2 linked regions of the Homo sapiens genome follow. The protein of the gene in region 2 purifies or fractionates together with the protein of the main gene of each other region. This does not show direct contact. Each region holds a gene or a part of one and is shown on either strand. Other genes may lie near its edges.

The links.
Region 1: the proteins of TBC1D28 (region 2) and DUSP29 purify together in Homo sapiens (affinity purification with mass spectrometry; one large-scale study listed by BioGRID and IntAct). This does not show direct contact.

The regions. Positions count from the first base shown.
Region 1 is NC_000010.11:75,046,131-75,049,941, forward strand, and holds part of DUSP29 (dual specificity phosphatase 29), read right to left. Parts: intron 1-3,811. UniProt on the Homo sapiens protein: Dual specificity phosphatase able to dephosphorylate phosphotyrosine, phosphoserine and phosphothreonine residues within the same substrate, with a preference for phosphotyrosine as a substrate. Involved in the modulation of intracellular signaling cascades.
Region 2 is NC_000017.11:18,641,566-18,646,012, reverse strand, and holds the start of TBC1D28 (TBC1 domain family member 28), read left to right. Parts: upstream 1-1,621; 5' UTR 1,622-1,723; intron 1,724-1,729; exon of another isoform or gene 1,730-3,276; intron 3,277-3,380; exon of another isoform or gene 3,381-3,427; intron 3,428-4,014; 5' UTR 4,015-4,089; coding exon of another isoform or gene 4,090-4,185; exon of another isoform or gene 4,186-4,234; intron 4,235-4,279; coding exon of another isoform or gene 4,280-4,381; intron 4,382-4,447.

The sequences.
Region 1 (3,811 bases), on a different chromosome or scaffold from region 2:
AAAAGAAAGAAAGAAAAAGAAAAATCAATCTGGCTGATGTGTGGGGATCCTGGATGCTAGGATCTGTGTTTGGGAGTCAAAGAGAGCTCTAGAGAGTGTTTAAAGAGAAGTGATACAATCTGGGTTTAAGAAGACACTTCCCTCAATAGCATGAAGACCAGGACTTCAGCTCAGGGAAGATGTGACAAGGGTCTGGAGCCGTACCAGTAAGAGGGTAAAAGTGGCATTGCACTCCAGCTGAGGGCTCATCTCAAGGCCACTGGTAAAAGCATGTGGACAGAAGTGACCATGTTAGATGCTAGCAGGGACCAACACCCTGAGCCAGGAGGAAGCCTCACACCAGAAATATATGCCATGGCCCCTCGGCCAAGGGTGCGCTTGTCTTTCATTGGTTTCCTGGAGCTTTTTATTTGGCATGAGAACCATGATGGTGTCCAGTGTTTGGGAAGGGAATTGAGCATTTGGAAACATTTGCAGACAGCCCATCAGAACTGTGGCATGGGGAGGTGGGGAGTCCCACTGAGCCCCCCTCCACTTGGCTCTTAGTGTGGCCATTCTGACTGTGGGACACATTGTGCTTTCCATTTTTCCTTAGAAAGGTCTGCTTTTCATTTTTCGTCTTGCCCCAAAGTATGTGTACAACAAACATTATGCTTTGGGGACGTAGATCTGCGCCCAATTAAAGCCGCCGCTAATGCAGTCCATCTTGCTGAGTAGCAATCAACCTCACTTTGAGGTTGAGCTCAGTGGAAAAATTAAAATTAACTCTTCTTGACAGGAAGCTCCTACCCACCATGAAGACTGTTCTCTCTGGGTTCAGTAACTGGCTTTCAACATAATCAAGTGGCAGTTTGAATGAATAACAGTTTGCACTTTGCCACTTTTGGGGAGCGGGATAGATATGCAACAAGACTCATTGCCTGACACCTCCATATCCACCACACCAGGCTGACGTTGGTTGTGCCTGAGGCAGAGAAAGGGGCTCGTGAGGACCCTGAGACCCGGTGGGTATTTGAGGCCCACCACAAGTTTTCAGGGTCTTGGCTCCCTGGACGGGAAGGGGAGTTGGTATCCTCACACATCACTCTGGGGACTTCCCCCAGCTTCATTCACTCAGAGTTCAGTTGAGGGCTTGAAAGAGCATCCACAGCAGAATGGGAATCTGCAAATAAATGGAGTGCCTCTTACACAGATGTTGTGGGGGAGGCAGAGCCATCATCACAGACACCCATCGTCCAGTCCCCAGATGGGACAGATGCCCAGCTCAGCAATTATTGGGAGTGGGGCAGGCTCAGAGGGTGGTGTCTGACACTAGATTGCTTTGGTTTTGTTTTTAAATTTCAGGGCCACATACATTATCTGCTCACATATGTTAAAAAGAGACTAAGAAACACAGGGGCATTTTGAGGTGATGGGCATGGAGAAAAGGCCGTGTGCCCCACTCCTGGGTCCACATAAATGCCTCTGCTGAGGGAGAAAAGACTTCAGAAAGAAAAACAGATTTAAGAATGTACTTCCAGAATCTAGATGACACAGGAGCTTTAGTTTCTGGTTAGGCACAATCCTAGATGTGATCAGTCTGTTCAATTTTTAAATAATATGTCGTCTCATGACAAAAATAACACATGCTCAATGTAGAATGTAGAAAACATACTCCCCCCTCCAAAAAAATCACCTGTATTTCTACTCCCCTGGAGATAAAGGCTATTGTTAGCTTTTGATGTAAGAACCTCCCATTGTTTCTCTATGCATAGATTTGTATATTTTATAGAAAGGTTTTTTTTTGGTACAATACTATATATATAAAGTTTCAAAACCTTTGACGTGATATATTGTAAACATCTTCCTGTGGCAACATATAAGACTTCAATAACTGCATGCTATTTCATTATATAGGTATGTCCCAATTTTTTCTTACCAAACATTTTGATGTGTTTCTTTGGGCACTCCTCTGTTTATGTCCGTAGGAGACATTTTTAAAGGTGAAATTGCTGGGTCAACAGATATGGCCATTTTAAAATACATTTGATACTTGTTACTAAATTACCCTACAGAAAACTTGCTAAAATTGCTAAAAATTGCAGTCCGTATTCTTTGTCAATTTCATAGACAAAAAAAATTAATGGTGTCTTGTTTTCACTGATTCATTTTAGCAGTGATGGACATTGTTTACACATTTGTTGGACTCATGCAGTTTACTTTTTTTTTTTGTAACCTTTTTTTTACTCTTCCCAGTTCACTGGAATCATGTAGTTTACTTTTTTTTTCTTTTTTTTTTTTGAGACAGAGTCTCGCTCTGTCGCCCAGGCTGGAGTGCAGTGGCGCAATCTCGGCTCACTGCTCACTGCAACCTCCACCTCCCAGGTTCAAGCAATTCTCCTGCCTCAGCCTCCCGAGTAGCTGAGATTACACGTGTGTGCCACCATGCGTGGCTAATTTTTGTATTTTTAGTAGAGACAGGGTTTCACCATGTTGGCCAGGCTGGTCTCAAATTCCTGACTTCAGGTAATCCACCTGCCTCCACCTCCCAAACCCAGTGGAGTCTTAACCGTGCAGTCTTGAGTGTGCCCGTTCCTTGCAAGTGGACTTTAAAACAGTGGGCACATTTCTGGCATCTGATCTCGGTTAGTTCACCTGATGGGAAAGTGAAATGAACCGGCCTTCCGGTGTCTTGGGTGTTCTTGTTACTTGAGGGTGAAGCTCCTCCGTGTTGAGGCACCTGAGAAAACATAGGGCTGACAGCTGAAACTGACGCATGAACTGAGGTGGCAGAACTGCTGGGAGCCTCCGTTTTCTTTGTTTGCTAAATAGTACCGATTACACTGGCAGTACTTTCCTTGTGAGAGTCTTGTGAAGTTGAATGATGCAATACTGAAGCTTCTTTGAGAGGTTAAAAGATGACTCCAAGGGGAAAAGGCAGTGGAAAGATTTATGTCAGAATGTGCTTATCCCATGACAAAATGTGGTAATGGGATTATATGTAGTTTAAATTTTCTTGTTTTTGTCTTTCTACATTTTGTACATTTTCAGTAATGAACGAGTCATATATTCATTTACTATGTAAATATAGCATGATTTGTATTGTTATTTCCTTAGTTTTCAGGAGAGACCATTGTAAAGGCATAAGGTGGCCTCGGGGTTTTTAACTTCTACTGGAAATCTCCTGTCTGCCCCACTCTCCCAAACTCTATTCCTCCAAGGATGGAGGTGAAGAGAAGAGAGTACCCAGGAGGTCTGGTTTTGAGAAATGATGTCGTGTGAGTGATTGGACTCGGCATTTGCCTAACCATGCAAGGAGATGGTTTATGTTGCTTGAGGCCTTGACTGCTAAGCCGTGTTCTGGCAATGAGAAGGCCAGGCCAGGCCAGGGCCTCAGGCTTCTCTCCCCGACCGTCTTGCCTGTGACTGCTGCCCAGCTATGCCTCAGTTGCCTTCAGTAGTTGGAAGTCCTAGTTATTTCAGGTAACGCCCAGCATGTTAAATTCGCAACCTTGACTGTTTTTTGCTGCATCCTAAACTGGCCACACCACCCACACCTCGAAGAAGCAGGTTAATTTCATTCGTGCTCGGTGCCTTAAGGCGGAATTAGTTCCTCCTTTTCGGGGAGAAGGAGCTGTCTCAGCTGACTGACTTGCCTTCACTTCACTTCCCAGGCTCTCAACGCCAGGCCAGCTGTGGCGATGCCTCTGGCTTCTGAGGCTGTGGGTCTGGTCAGAAGCAGAAAAGCAGAAAGGACAAGACAGAGGTTCCCTGGAAAGCCAGCTTGGGCTGGGTGGGTGGGGCAGGCTGCAGGCCTTGGCAGGAATCTGAG
Region 2 (4,447 bases):
AACAAGTGGTGTGTGTGTGTGTGTGTGTGTGTGTGTGTGTGCGCGCGCGCTCCCACGCGCACGTGACCACTTGCTACGAAATTCGTTTTATTCCAGTGTGTGAGTGTGCACCTGTGTGCGTGTGTGCACTCCTGTTGACCCAGTTTCTGCTCTGTGGCCAGGTCCATGACCCTAGACGACCCCAGGTGTGCCCTCGATGACGTCTGCAGGGATGGAGCACCGCCCCTGCCATTGGGTATTGCACTGTGTGATGCCATCCTCGGGGCCCTCAGGGTGATGGAACCCAATAGGCTTCCTTAGGCTTTCCTTTCAGATGGACAGGAAATAGATGATGTTCCATTGTCATTTTGTTTTCTTTCTTTCCATGGATTCTGTGACCATCTTCCTCTCCTCATTGACTCTGCCAGAAGGGGATTCCTGGTGGGGCAAGGGTAGCTGGTGGGAAATGAGCTACCAGGAAATTAGCAAAGGGTCTTCTGGCCATCTGGGGACAGTTCTCATGTGGTCCCCAGCCCAGTCTCGAGGCTTCTGGGCCGGTCACCCTGCAGCCTCGGTGCTGCGCCTCTGGATCCAGCCTCCGCAGGAAGAACCCTGGGAGACCCAGCAAAACGGGGTGCCTGGTCTGACAAACGTCCCCCCGTTCCTCTGGCTCTGCGGCTCAGGAATAGGCCGAGACATCATGTCCAGGCAGTGCCAGGCCACCTCACTGCCCCCTTTAAGGTTGAGCGCAGAGGGCTTTTGGGGGCGAGCATGAAGCTGGGCACCCAGAGCCTGAGGCCGACTGTCCCTCCCTGTGTCCTGGAGTGGGGGCCTTGACCCGAGAAGACCCCCAGGGGATGGCCTGTGGGTGCTGATGTGGGGAGGGGAGGTCTGTGGACTGAGGGGGGTCATTGGCAGGGGACATTGATCACCGCGGCTCAGGGTTCTGCTCAGTGGGGTCAGTGGGAACGTGGTCAGTGAAGGCCTGGTCAGTGGGGGCCTGGTCAGTGGGGGTCTGGCTGGCAGAAGCCTGGCCAGGTGGCAGCTAGGTGACTTCAGGCAGGGTTTGTCCTTGGAGCCTCCTTGCCGCCATCTGTAGTGGGAACGAGTCATGGCACTCCGGAGGGCTGCTGGGAAGAGGAGGTGAGCAGGTGTGTGGAATCCAGCCCTGCCAAACAGATCTAGCACTTTACAGCCTAGATGAGTCCCCTGCTAGGGAGGGGACCTGCCCTTTGCCTTTTGCCCCCAACCCTCAACCTTCTGCCCCCTATCTTCCATCTGCAATCCCAGGAATGCCCTGGATGGGGAGGTCTGAGTTTAGGGAGCACCTGTGGATGCTCTGATGATGGCCATGGGTCCCGAGGGGGGAGAGAGTGACAAGGGTGACCCAGTGTCCTGGGTGCACATATGAGTGGGGCAGCTGGGCCTAGCCAGAGCAGTGACAAACGCATGCACACATGTGTTCACCCACATACACGTGCATGCTCACATGCACAAACACTGCACACACGCACGTTGACACTTCAAGGGGTGGAGGGTGCTGACTCTGGTCCCGGCTGACCCAGGCAGGGGCCCATTGTGATGGGTGTCATGACCTCACAATGTCACTGGTGCTGAGCACTCGCCCACCTGTCCGCTTGCCGTCTCTATGTCTGGAGCTCTTAGAGATAAGACATAGAGGTGTCTGGTTCTGAGAAAAGGAAGTTTTGCTAAGTGAGAGACACAACTGACTCAACTGACTCAGGTGAGTGTGACCTGCTCTGTTCCTTCCCTGCTGACCTGGGTACAGTCATTACCTGGTGGGCAGGGCTAGCCTCTGGGCAGGTGCCGAGGAGGGTCATCCCTGAGCACTCACCAGGTGCCTGTTCTGCACTGACCTGGTGGACTCTGTGGGGTGGGTGCTGTCCCCGAATGTACCCATTCCACAAGTGAGATGTCTAGGGTCAGAGAGGAGGTGACTGGCCAAGAGACCCAGATGTGATCCTGGGCTGTGCTCTCAGCCCTGCCCTGTGCATGCCCTGGTCTCTATGGCCCTAGATTCCAAATCTGCCCAGGGTTTTCTGGCCCCTGATGGGGCAGAGTCTGGCCCTGAAAGAGCTACTGGGATGGAACTCCTATGGGTGTGGTGGAGGGAGGTGGTGCTCGGTCCAAGTCTGTGCCCTAAGCTGGGTGTCCGCAGGAGGAGGTCTCACCAACTCAGACTTCACGTGCGGTCACTGAGGGTCTCCGTGGGACCCACTGGACACATGGGGTCCCTTGTCTGGGAGTAGGGAGCCCTCTGCCTGTGGGCAGTTGTGGTAGAGGACCTTGAACACTGCTGCTCTGGGGCCTGGGCAGGGAGGACTTGGACAGTGGGGACCTGGTCAGGAAGGCCTGGTCACTGGGGGACTGGTCAGCGAGGACATGGTCAGTGGGGAATTGGTCATCAGGGGCCTGGTCAGCAGAGGCTTGGCCACTGGGGCTTAGTCAGTGAAAAACTGGTCAGTGGGGACATGGTCAGTTGGAGCCTGGTCATCAGGGGCCTGATCAGTGAGGACCTAGTCAGAAGGCCTGGTCACTGGGAAAACGGTCAGTGAAAGCCTGGCCGGCAGGGGTCTGGTTAGTGGGGGCCTGGCCAGATGGTTGCTTGGTGACCTCAGGCACGGGGTTTGTCCTTAGAGCCTCCTTGCCTCCGTCCATAGCAGAAATGAGTCATGGCACCCTGGAAGGCTACTGGGAGGAGGAGGTGAAAAAATGTGTGGAATCCGACCTTGCCACTCACACCCAGCATTTTACAGTCTAGCTGAGTTCCCCCTAATGAGGGGCCCTGTCCTGTGCCCTCTAACCCCTAGCCCCCATCTGCATCTTCAGGACTGCCCCGTGTGGGGAGTTCTGAGGTTGGGGAGGACCCATGGATGCTCTGATGCTTGCCACAGGCCTCAAGGGAAGGTGACGCTGATTAAGACTTGATGAGCACTTGGGTGCACATGTAAGTGGGACAGCCAGCCCTGGCCAGAGACGCTACTCGTGCACACACATGTTCACCCACATAAACATACATGCTCACCTGCACAAACACATTTTGACACCTTAGGGGCTGGAGGACACCGACTCTGGGCCCTCTTGACCTGGGCAATGGCCCATTATGATGGGTGCCATGACCTCAAAATGTCACTGGTGCTGAGTGACCGCCCACCTGCCCACCCACTCACCTCTGTGTTGTGCAGCACTTGCACATAAGACGCACACAGGTGTCTGGTTCTGTGGTGCATGAACGACTTTTCTAAGCGAGAGACACAGCAGCCTGAGCAGACTCAGGTGAGTGACCTCTGGGCAGATGCCGACGAGGGTCACCCCTGAGCACTCACCGGGTACATGTTCTGCACTGACGGCGTGGACCATCCTCTCCTTTGTCCTCACAGAGACTCTGTGGCGATGGGTGCTGTCCCCAAATGTAGCCATTCCACAGGTGAGATGTGTAGAGTCAGAGAGGCGGTGACTGGCCCAGAGACCCAGATGTGACCCGGGCCGTGCACTCAGCCCTACCCTTTGCCATGCTGGACTTGAGCTTTGACCGCTGAGGCCTCTCTACCCTAGATTCCAAATCTTCCTTGAGTTCTGGAATTCAATGAGGCAGGGTCTGGTCCTGGAAGAGCCACTGGGACAGAGCCCCTGTGGGTGGGGTGGAGGGTGAAATTCTTGGTCCAAGTCTGTGCCCTAAGCTTGGTCCCCACAGGAGGAGGTCACTGATGGTTGCTGTGGGACCCACTGGACACATGGGGTCCTTCATCTAGGAGTGGGGTGGGGAGCCCTCTGCCCTCAGGCAGTTGTGGAAAATGAAGGAGCCCTGGAGGGCTGCCTGGAGGGTGACAATCGTCTCTCCTGGTCAAAGAGGCTTGGGGACTGGAACCCTCCTGCAGCGTCCCATTCTCTCTGTCTGGTCCTCTAGAGGCCTTGCCTTCCGTTTGCCCCGAGTATTCCTGGGGGGGACGGTTCCCCCAGGTGTTCTCTAGGACTAAGGCCCCAGCGTTCTCTTGTTCTTTCTTGGTGACCCAGGAAAACAAAGTCCCCTCCTGTATTGACAGCTGGGAATTGTGGTGTCCACCGTCCTCGACCTGCGACGGGGTCTCCATGAGCACAGAGGCTGCTCTGGAGTCAACAGATCATCTTTTCCCCAAACCAAACTGCTTGGCTGGCGTTGTTCCTGAAGGGGCTTCACTGGCCAGAGTGAGTGAGAATTGGGGTAGAACGGAGCAGTCACCAGATGTCTTGCTTCCTACGGAAAACTGATTATCTTCCTGGTCCCTGAACCATCCTATAGAGACATCCAGTCCCTGACTCCACCTGCCTCCAGGTGCCCAGAACAGCCCATCGTGGGGACTTCACCCTCAGCAAGTGGACGCCGTTTGTCCTGCCAGGGCAGGTGTGTGTCTGCCTTGGGGTGTTCGGGGACAATAGGCCTCTCTGTTCAGGTCCCCGTGTGCTCAAA